Regions from separate parts of the Homo sapiens genome. Here region 2 is linked to region 1. Evidence: fine-mapped expression QTL. A gene starts in region 1. The other region holds a variant in brackets. All regions are shown on one strand. Distances are from middle to middle.

Region 1 (5,532 bases):
TTAATTTTCCAGAATGAAAGCCACCAATAACAGCCTGCCATTCTTTTCTGTTAAACAGCATAAAATTTCACCTTTTGAAAGTTCTGAACAAACAGAACAATTGAGACAACGAACCAAGAAACACCTAAAGTTCAGTCAGCATCAGGCCTTATTTTAGCCAAACTGATTTTGCAGTAAATTTTTCTATTAACTAGACTATTTAATTAAAAATTATTCCATTTTAAATAAGAATTATTCGATATTATCTGAGGATACATATTTTTTAACTGTATGAAAATAATATTTTTAAAAGGGCTAGGAGCCCGGCGAGGTGGCTTATTCCTGTAATCCCAGCACTTTGGGAGGCCGAAGCGGGTGGATAATCTAAGGTCAGGAGTTCGAGACCAGCCTGACCAATGTGGTGAAACCCCGTCTCTACTAAAAATACAAAATATTAGCCGCGCATGGTGGCGCGCACCTGTAATCCCAGCTACTCGGAGGGGTGTGGGGAGCTGAGGGAGGATGATTGCTTGAATCCGGGAGACGGAGGTTGCAGTGAACCGAGATCGCGCCACTGCGCTCCAGCCTGGGCAACAGGAGAGCCGTACCCCCGGCAAAAAAAAAAAAAAAAAAAGGGGTTAGGGACTTAACAATGTTGTCATCTTTATTTAAAATAGTGTGAAACTGTTAAGTAAATATACTTGCAAAATGCATAAAATATAAAGAAGCAGTTCTAATTTTTGAAAACCATTAGAGACCATAGACATTTGCAATGTAAAAGGCTGCAGCAAACCAATTTACAGTAAAAGTTGAAATAATATGAATTGTAAAAATATTTCTAAACTGACCATGATAAAATGAAAAACTCACAGGAAGACAACAGAACAATCAAGATGAACATAAAGTAATTCTTGAGCGTGGGGACAAGACTATGAAAGAAGTGAGAAATGTACATGCACTGGTCGCTGTGAGATGGGGAGAGACTGCTCCAACAGGGTAAATCTTAGAGACTCAAGAAGACTGACTACGTGATAAGTGACTCTCAGACGAGAAGCATTCACTGATGAAAACTCTGGCTTCCCTTTCCTTTGATGTTGCAACAGTTCTATTTTCCATTCTTTGTGAAACCTGGAGATTACTCTTCACAATTGTATTTTAACAATTCTGCTGACGCGGCAATCAGGTGGGCAAAGGGAAAGATCAGTGGCGAAGCCTGGGCAGCAAGGGATACTGGAAATAGACTATGAGAGAGATTGAGAGATTACAGTCAGCAGCTATGTGTCAGGAGGGATGAGGAAATCCGAGTTAGAAGCGCTGAGCAGTGGTGCGGCAGGAGGCAGGGAGGGTCCGGAGGAAAACAGTAAAAGGGGGCAGGAGTGGCAGAGCAAGCGTGTGACCCACAACCAAGGGAGGTAAACCACATGAGGAGCTGGTGGGGAGCAGACTGAGGCGCTGTGAGGGTGGTTAGGACAAGCCCGCCCTCCCACCCTACTTTTTCCTCCGGTGGAGAGGCAGCGACCAGTCACCTGGAGTGTGAGTTCCGGAGGGACTCGATCAGGCGCTGCTTCTGCTGCTGGAGGCTGGTGAGGCCACCGGGGGACCCAGCCGCGGAGGAGGAGGCGCTCTTGGTCAGGGGAAAAAGCCAGCTCATCCTCCTCGGGTCCACGGGCCGGAGGCCCTGGAAGGCTCTGGCCTGCTTCTCCCAGTGGCTCGGCCCGGCGGTTCTCCAGCGACAGAGGAGCGGGGTGGGACGTCCGTGGCCCAAGCGCTGGGGACCGCGTCTTCTCTAAGCCTGTCCTGCCTGCGCTCCCCGAGTTCTGGGGGACATGCTACGAACGGCGGGCGGCTGGAGAGGGAAACTTGCGGCCCGGAACAGGAGGTCCCACCTTCACGGCCCAGACGCCCAAACCGGCCAGCCAGGGAGCCTGGCCGCCCAGCGCTCCACCACCCGCGCCGCCGTCACTTGCGTGCCCCGCCCCCGGGGGCGCTCTCCGCCCCCTCTGCGTGTCGCGTCATCATCTAGCGCCCCCGTCAGGACGTGCGAAAAGCGACGGCGCAGCACGGTGCGGCGCAGCTCCTGCTCGCCTTTCCCTTCGCTGGGCGAGAGGTGTCTATGGGGCACCCGCTGCCGCCGCCGCTACCGCCACCGCCACCGCCACCGCCGCCGAGTGCTGTCTCTATGGCGAGGAGGAGGAGGAGGAGCGCGAGCTCAGCGACACAAGTAGATCTTGCATCCGCTGCAGCCTTACGGGGGGAGGGGCGGGTTAGGGAAGTAGAAAGGGGGCGGGGACGATGAACCTGAGAGGGTGCGCGATGGCGCCAGCTGGAGTGCGGCTGGCGGAGGAAGGAGCCTGGCGGCGGGTTGGGGGCTGGGTAACTGGGGCTGGGGGTTTGTCAAGGGGTTGGCGCGTAGTGATGACGCAAAGGCTTTGTACCTGGGGCTTCGCAGTGGGACGGAAATTGGGAGTGGAGGGCGGTGGCCTAGATCCTCACCTCTTCGTATTGTTTCACGCGGCAGTGCTTGGGAGTCAGTGTAGCTCCAGTCAGTGTTATCAGCACCTTCGCACTGGCGCTTTGCCAGGGAAGAGAGTTATCTATGGCTTGAATACCTCGGTGCCGTCCTCTCGTTTCTCTGGGAAACTGCAGTACGGAGATGCTTTCTCCAGTAATGAGAAGGCCTTTGGTGTCTCTTCGGGGCTTCTGGGACTGCAGTAGAGAGAGAGGTGGAGGAAAACAATGTTAGACTACAGGGTCTTTCCAAGTCTTTGTGTTTTTGTGCTTATGTGTGTGTGTGTGCCTATCGGGGTGGGAGAGTTATAAAGGAGGGGTGTCCTGGATCTCCTTTAGTTTCTCTACTTGGAGAATTGGAAGTTACATTTGTGACTCTTCAGAGTTTAGAAGACAGTCATAAGACCCTCTTTTTACTCTTGTTTTTTTTTTTTCCAATTTGTATGAAAAATGCAGAAGGATTTGAAATTTCCCTGCCCAAGAATCAACAGGAACTCTGTTTATAGACCAGAAATGTGACATCTATCTTTGGTAACCATGCAATATGCTCTAAGTTTTAGACGTTCTATTGTGTTCTTTTTCCGTTCTGCAACTGCGAACATTCAGATAATTTTCATGGCCGTTACTTTTTTCTCAGAGCATTTACAAACATTTTTGACCCCTCTAGTCTAGTTAGAATAAACGCCGGTAAAGTAGATCTTGTTATCAAGTCGGATTTTGGTTGTTTTATTAATGAGGAATAAAAATAAACACCATCTTTGCCATGGTAACATCTGATCTTGTCACATGTAAATAAGTAATTTTTCATTTTTTGTCTGGAAATGGATGGCTTTATAAAGTTTTATGCAGAGTAGTTGAACTCAGATAAATAATTAGTGGAAAGTTATAAAATATGATTAGTATGTATGTGTAAAAAAGCTATTTTAAAATAACTGAAATTAGGACCAGGAAATCTGTACTGTAGTCCTTTTTTTCCTATAGACTAGCTGTGTGACCTTAAGTTACTTTCTAAACTTTGATTTTTTTTTTTTATGAGTCAAGAACTTTGAATAAATAACTTCTTAGGTTCCTGCTGGATCAATTATTCTGTGATTCAGATTTGATATATCTGGTCTTCATATTGTTTTTTTATTTTGACAGGTACATAAATAAAGGATAAAATATTTTATGAAACAAATCTTCAATCAAGTATAACATTTTGATGCTTGGCATCTAGACTCCCTTGTGCCCTCACTATGCCAGCGGCAACTGTAGATCATAGCCAAAGAATTTGTGAAGTTTGGGCTTGCAACTTGGATGAAGAGATGAAGAAAATTCGTCAAGTTATCCGAAAATATAATTACGTTGCTATGGTATGCCCACAAGCAGATCTTTAAAACGCTTCATATAAAGGAGGAAAAGGAAATTTTAAAGTCTTGAATTCAACCCTTTTGGTTGATATTTTTAGGGATTAATTTCACCATGAAAAGTAAAATTTGTCACTGCCCTCCAGCCAAAATCCATCAGGAATACACCTGTGATTTGACAGGTTGGGTTTATCCCTCATTGCAGTGAGGGAAAACGCACTGGAATTCATGGGAACCATGGGCCGTTTGAATAAGAGTTAGGAAGGATTTGGGCTCGTGTCAGGTGGTCTTAGGGGAAGGTAAGGGAAGCAGAGCTTTACTGTGGATTGGATGTGTTCGGGAAGCTGGGGTAATTCTGTGATTGGGTATCTTACTAAGTCTTAAATGAGAGACTAGAATGAGGTTAAAGCTGCAGAGAAGGAACAGTCATTCATTTAGCCAGGATGGAGATACTTGGTCATTTTGTGGTTTGACATTTTTATTTTTTTGTCCTTGTTCAGACATGATTACAGAGTGGCCTTATTTGAGGTTGAACTTTTGTGAAATTGTGTTCAACAGGAGAACATTAGGGCGTGGCTATGAGTGCCAGGTCTGCTCCTAGCAACACCAAAGCCTAGCTGGTAGTACCACATGAGCTCCCAGAAGCTAGGGTGCTCTTTCTCAAACAAAAAAATCAGATGTGCCAGTGAAACGTTGTTGGTCTGCAATTTGTTTTCATAATTAACACTGGAGTTCTGTGAATATACTGTGTTACTAAGCAACTCTGCTTTTGCACGTGCTGTTTGGTCTGCCTAGATTGTCTATCCAGTTAATGATTTTTCTTCTTTACCATTATACTGTCTATATCTGTTAGCTACCCTACTGTTTTCTACATCCACTGGATTATTATTAGCTCCATAAACCAAGTGTTTTAATCCTTTCTCTCCCAACACCTAGCATAACACATATAGTATTCAATAAAGTGGCTGTTGAATTGCACTGAATTTAGAGAAATATTGATTTCTTTACTATTTCATAGTGACTTGATAGGTAGTTTTTATTCTTAGCTAGCCCTAGTTTGAATTCTAATACTAAACCGATGTATCTTTGTCTCAGTATTTTTAATAAAAATAAACAAATGCATTACTTTGGGGAGGAGCAAGTTGATTGGTTAAAATATGACTGTTTCTTTGTAGATGACATACTATTTGATAAAGGTGTACTTACCCATGATTAGAACTAAAATTGTTTTCTTAACCAATGGAAATTCATAGTGATCATTGATTTCTCAGATGATAAAGAGTGGCAACATAGAGAAGTGATAACATCCTACAAGAGTGAGTAGGTGGCATGCAATTCTTGACAGCATGCTTTCTGTGGACTATAGAGAGAATATTGTTTAAGCCAGAGAAATTAGGAAGCTAATGATGTTTTTCTTAGGGTTTTGGTGTTGAGAAAAACCTTGTGTCAGAGAAGCAATTGGAAAGTACAGGGCGTTTTCCCCTCTTTTGAACCAGTTCTTCAAGAAACTTGGTTTTAGCATTGGAATACTGTGAGCATCATTTCATGTATCCTTTGGGAGACAGGAATTTATGATTTTCCCCCCTTTCTTGGTTATAGAGTAAGTATTTGGTTAAATTTATCACATGTATCTCGTATAGTAACTTTTTGGATATATTTAAGGAAAGGTTATTAAGTTTATAGAGTTTTATGGTTCTAA
Region 2 (5,000 bases), 27 kb before region 1:
TTAATAATGATCTTTCAAAATCTGGCCTCAAGCATAAATGCATGCATTTGTTTAGCTGCCTCATTTTTAAAGAGTACCCACTATATTCATCAGTATATTTGAGGCACTAAGAAAGTGGTGAAAAAAACCAGAATCACATTTTTTGTAAAGGCGATCTACTAGTTCTACCTTGGTCCCTAGGAGCACTGACCATTCCCCTAACTGTGTCTCTACCAAAACTCTGTCCCTTCTACTACACTAGAATTAGAAGCTCCATATTTAAAATTATTATTTGTTGGTTACCTGTTACTTGAATTGAAAAATGTGAGTTCATCTTTTCATATTTTGTGTCTAACTTATTATCTGGCACACAGAGGCATGTAATAAAGGTGTGTGGATTGAATGAATGTTTCAGTGGCACAAAATATAGATAACTGACGATACCAACCGGTATTGAAGCATCCACTGTGGGAATGGGTAATGGCAGATTTGAAAGGACACCAAATGAAGGAGCGGCAGGCTTGGCTGTGGTATGACTTGTTGTTGAAGAAGAAACAGTGTCAGCAACAGATAAAGAAGTGATACTCCTGTTTGCTTCTTGTGGAGGATATGGAGGAAGAAATGGAAAACCCTGAGAAGCATAAGGAGACATCCCACTTGGGTTACTGTATAGACTGAAAAGAAAAAGAGAAGATCATTACATTAGATTTTATGGATAAAACATGTCAAATTGTTTCTAAATTGTTCTAAATAACAAAGGTCAAGTACTATATAGATGAAATGTTATAATGGCAGGTGATATTTATTAAATTATATAATGGAATTAAATATTATATAAAGTGGTAAAATATGACCCCACCCCCCCGAAAAAAAAGAATTGTAGAATTGTGGTTTCTACAAAGAAGATGATGGGTGCTTTAGAAAGCATGCAATTCAACTGGACGGAGTAGAAGTGGATAGACAGGCCATTTTTGAGTTTTCAGCACTCCACTGCTATCAATCAGTATCTCCATAGAGGGAATGCAGAGCAATATTTAATCCAGGACATTTATTCAAGTAGAGGCTAACAGCTTTCTCTGTATTTGTCAAAATCTGACTGAAAGTCAAGACTGCTTTTCTAGAAAATTTCGAAGTAAAATTAAGTATGCAGATGAGCTTCTAAAATGTTGAAATATTAAAAACAGATGCATATATAAACACGCATGTATATTAGAGTCACACAGCATTATGTACTTTGGATTCAATCACAGAACAATATAGTCAGTATTTATTTTTGCAAGATAACAAATATTTTACATTTAACATTTTTTCCCCTTAGCAAATTTTAGAGAGAACCAGATCATTATATTACTCTAAAAAGCATTAGAGTAATTCAGACCTAGATGCAGACTGAGAATCATCTAAATACAATATATGAATAATACAGTGAGTTTATATGGATCAGGCACTCTAGTGTAAAGGATAAGGGACTTACAGTTATGTTTTAAATATTAATGTAATGCTACTAAAATGCTTCCCTTTACATTGAAAAATGTTTCAAAATGTATTAATTTTTTATGAGAGTACTATTATTTCATTTAATGACATAACCTGAGTTGGAAATTTTGTGGGAAGAAAACATTTTTTTTAAATGTATACGAATGACACTAAAATGTATATGGAAAAATAAGCCACAGTAGAAAGAAAAAAAGCCTGAAAAAGGAAGGTACAGAAATATTAGTCCTTTGATAAAGCAAAACAAATTATAAAACCCTAATACACGCCTGTAATCCTAGCACTTTGGGAGGCTGAGGCAGGTGGATCATGAGGTCAGGGGATCGAGACCATCCTGGCTAACACGGTGAAACCCCGTCTCTACTAAAAATACAAAAAATTAGCTGGGCGTAGTGGTGGGCGCCTGTAGTCCCAGCTACTCGGGAGGCTGAGGCAGGAGGATGGCATGAACCCGGGAGGCCGAGCTTGCAGTGAGCCGAGATTGCGCCACTGCACTCCAGCCTGGGGAAAATAGGGATTGTATAGGAACAGAAACTGGTACAACTACTCTGGAGGGCAATTTTGCAGCATTTGTCAAAACTACAAATGTGCATTACACTTCTAGAATTTATCCAACAAATAAGCTCACATTTGGGTAAAATATTATTTTAAAGATTATTTACTGGAGCAGCACTGACGGCAATGAAGTAGGATGGGCTTTTGAGGGAGGGTTAGAAAACATGAAAATATCTGTCAGGCTTGCTAAAGACATTATAATACACCCATAAAACAAATACTTTGTGGCTATAAGGAATAATGAGGAAGTGCCTTAGTACTAACATGAAAAACTTTCCAAAACCATATCATTTAGTGACCCCCTCCACCAAAAAAAAAAAAAAAAAAAAAAAAAGGAAGGGCAAAATATGCTACCATTCATATAAAAAAGGGGGAAAATACAATACTATATATATTTTCTTGTAGATGAATAAAACAGCTCAGGAATTATATATACACAAACCCAAACAAATAACTTTAGATGCTAATGAGGAAAAAAAATTAAGCTGCAAGGGAAAAA[A/GAA]GTGACACGGAGATTTTCACTCTATACTCCTTTATACTTTTTGAATTTTGAGCCAGGTGAATATATGACCCCTAGAAAAAATTAAGTTTTCTAATCAGCTTGTTCATTTCAAACGATGGCTCATCTTTATCTTAAAATTTATCTGAAGGAATTAGTGATATGTATGTGAATATAACAAGCTATTTAGAAACAATAAAACCAACATGAGAGAGTATTTGTAATATCTTTGAATTTAAATCAATAATTCTGACCCAATCTGCTTTATTTTGAACTCAGTAGCAGGTACAACCCACAAAATAATCTAAGAAATGCATCAAACTTGATTTTTAATAATGGTACTATATCCCCGAACTTATCTGAAATGAAAACAAGTAAACTTGTCGGTTTGTATTTTCAAATAAGGTAAATGAGTTTATATCCAGCCCTATTACTACAGAAGATAGAGGTATGGGTTTTGAATACATTTTTTATCTGAAAATAAGGACTCAGGACTCTAGAACATAGAAAACAGGAAGAAAAAGATGAGGGGGAGAGGGCTGAAGTACCTGGAAGTGGAATGCTGCTATGACAACAACAACAACAAAAATCTAAAGTGTGGGAGTAGCTTTGGGACCAAGCAGAGCTATAGGCTGGAAGTCCCCTCAGAAGATTATGAAGGTCTAATGGGCCTCAAAGAGGCTGTTAGGAGGAGCCTGGTGGGCCTTTGAGCAGATGGTCACCGGAAGGAGAACTTTTTATTAGTGGAAAGTTTACCAATACTGCTGCATGCAATAATATGGAAAACAGAAAATGTACCTAGTGAATTGGATGATCTAGCTAAGGAGATTTCCAGGCAGTGCGGATGGTGCCACCTGATTTCTAGCTGGCTGTAGTAAAATGTGAGAAGAGAGAGAAATTAAAGAACTGCTAAATATGAAAGATGAGATTTCCTGGATTTGAAAATAAATTTATCTCTCATTCCTAGCTTCCCTAAGATTCTCAAATTAAGAAACACCTCTAAAAGCAAAGTTCAAACCCAGCATGGGCTAGAAGATCCTTTGTTAACACCTCTGGAAGAGCCAAGGCAGAGCCTCAGAGTGCTGTCGAGTAAGAAAAACAGCCACTTAGGGCTTCAAAGAATCTTAAAGACATTGTCTCTCAGCAGCCTCACTGGAAGCCCAACAGCTTATTTGGAGGAGCTTAGTGGGTGTTGCTTTTGTTTAATGAAATGAATGAAAAAGGATTCATAAGAAATCATAAGCATTTTTTTTTTTGAGACGGAGTCTTGCTCTGTCACCCAGGCTGGAATGCAGTGGCGTGATCTCGGCTCACTGCAAGCTCTTCCTCCCGGGTTCACGCCATTCTCCTGCCTCAGCCTTCCGAGTAGCTGGGACTACAGGTGCCCACCACCATGCCCAGCTAACTTTTTTGTATTTTTAGTAGAGACGAGGTTTCACCGTGTTAGCCAGGATGGTCTCGATCTCCTGACCTCGTGATCCGCCTGCCTCGGCCTCCCAAAGTGCTGGGATTACAGGCGTGAGCCACCGCGCCCAGCCAATCATAAGCATGTTAAAGGAATTGTGTCATCTTGGGTCTACAAGGGACAGAGAAAGTACCAAATGAAAAAGAGGCTAACAGACCCTTAATTTCTACAGGCAGGAAGCAGGCTGAAAAAACTATGCACTTGGAAACAAGGGCTACATTTTACAGAAAGGAATTATGACACAGAAGGCAGAACCAAGAAACGAAAATTACTCTATGAAGAATCATTTCCATTAACTAAGTCTTAATAAAAAAAACAATGTGCCCAGTTGGATTTCAGTACTGTTATGAACCAGTGGCTCCTGTGTGCTTCCTACTTCCTCTCTTTTGGAATCTATAGTGGTTACCCGAGGCTTGTTCTACCATTGTACAGTGGGTGTGTGAGGGGCAGCTACCTTGTCTCTTTAATTCCGTTGTCTTCAGATCAAGAGGAATTGTTCTTCAGGAACACAAGTGAGAAACCTCATCTGTACTTGAATCTGATTTAGATGAAAGAACACAAGCCTGATTCTACAATATGATGAACTCTGCAAGTTCTTGGGGAAAGGGGAGTGTGCCTATTCACCTATAGGAAAGAGGTGAATTCTTACGGCTAGGAGGAAGAATGTGACCGACTTTATATTCCAAAATGGCCACAACCAGATTTCCAGTCCCATATGAACTTCTTGAACTTTGCTACCCCATCGAGAAATGAAGTCTACTTTCCCTCCCCTTTCAATCTGGGTGGATCTAGGTGACTAACTTTAGAAAATGCAGCAGAAATGATGCTGAATAACATTCAGGACTAAACCAAAAAAGATAATACAGCTTCCACTTGGTTGGAATGCTCTCTCTCTTGGGATCCTGACCCTCAGATCTCACCCCTGCCACGCAGTGAGGAAGCGCAGGTCACATGGAGATGCCACATATAGATGTATCAGCACTGAAGTCTAACCATTAAGCCAACATTAAC

Alleles and levels. Positions count from the first base shown, and alleles are read on the strand shown. Sizes are in standard deviations (SD) of each study's normalised expression.
For the expression in NK cells of the gene that starts at base 1,917 in region 1, allele GAA in region 2 goes with a lower level than allele A (small effect, 0.23 SD a copy in Gilchrist 2021).

The links. PIP is the estimated chance that this variant, and not a neighbour inherited with it, causes the effect. A credible set is the group of variants that fine-mapping cannot tell apart.
Region 2: its variant is the best candidate, but not a certain one, in a credible set for the expression of VPS37A in NK cells (Gilchrist 2021, PIP 0.88).

Annotation. Positions count from the first base shown.
Region 1 is chr8:17,243,343-17,248,874 of GRCh38, reverse strand. VPS37A (VPS37A subunit of ESCRT-I) reads right to left here and starts at 1,917. Exons shown (of 12, transcript NM_152415.3): 1 at 1,506-1,917. The coding sequence starts at 1,630. CNOT7 (CCR4-NOT transcription complex subunit 7) reads left to right here and starts at 2,018. Exons shown (of 7, transcript NM_013354.7): 1 at 2,018-2,200; 2 at 3,628-3,839. The coding sequence starts at 3,723. RefSeq lists an enhancer at 1,421-2,269.
Region 2 is chr8:17,270,386-17,275,385 of GRCh38, reverse strand. It overlaps VPS37A (VPS37A subunit of ESCRT-I), which reads right to left. Exons shown (of 12, transcript NM_152415.3): 5 at 428-653. Among named protein-coding and RNA genes, the nearest start is that of VPS37A, 26 kb to the right of the region's middle. The variant A/GAA (reference allele first, on the strand shown) is at 2,528.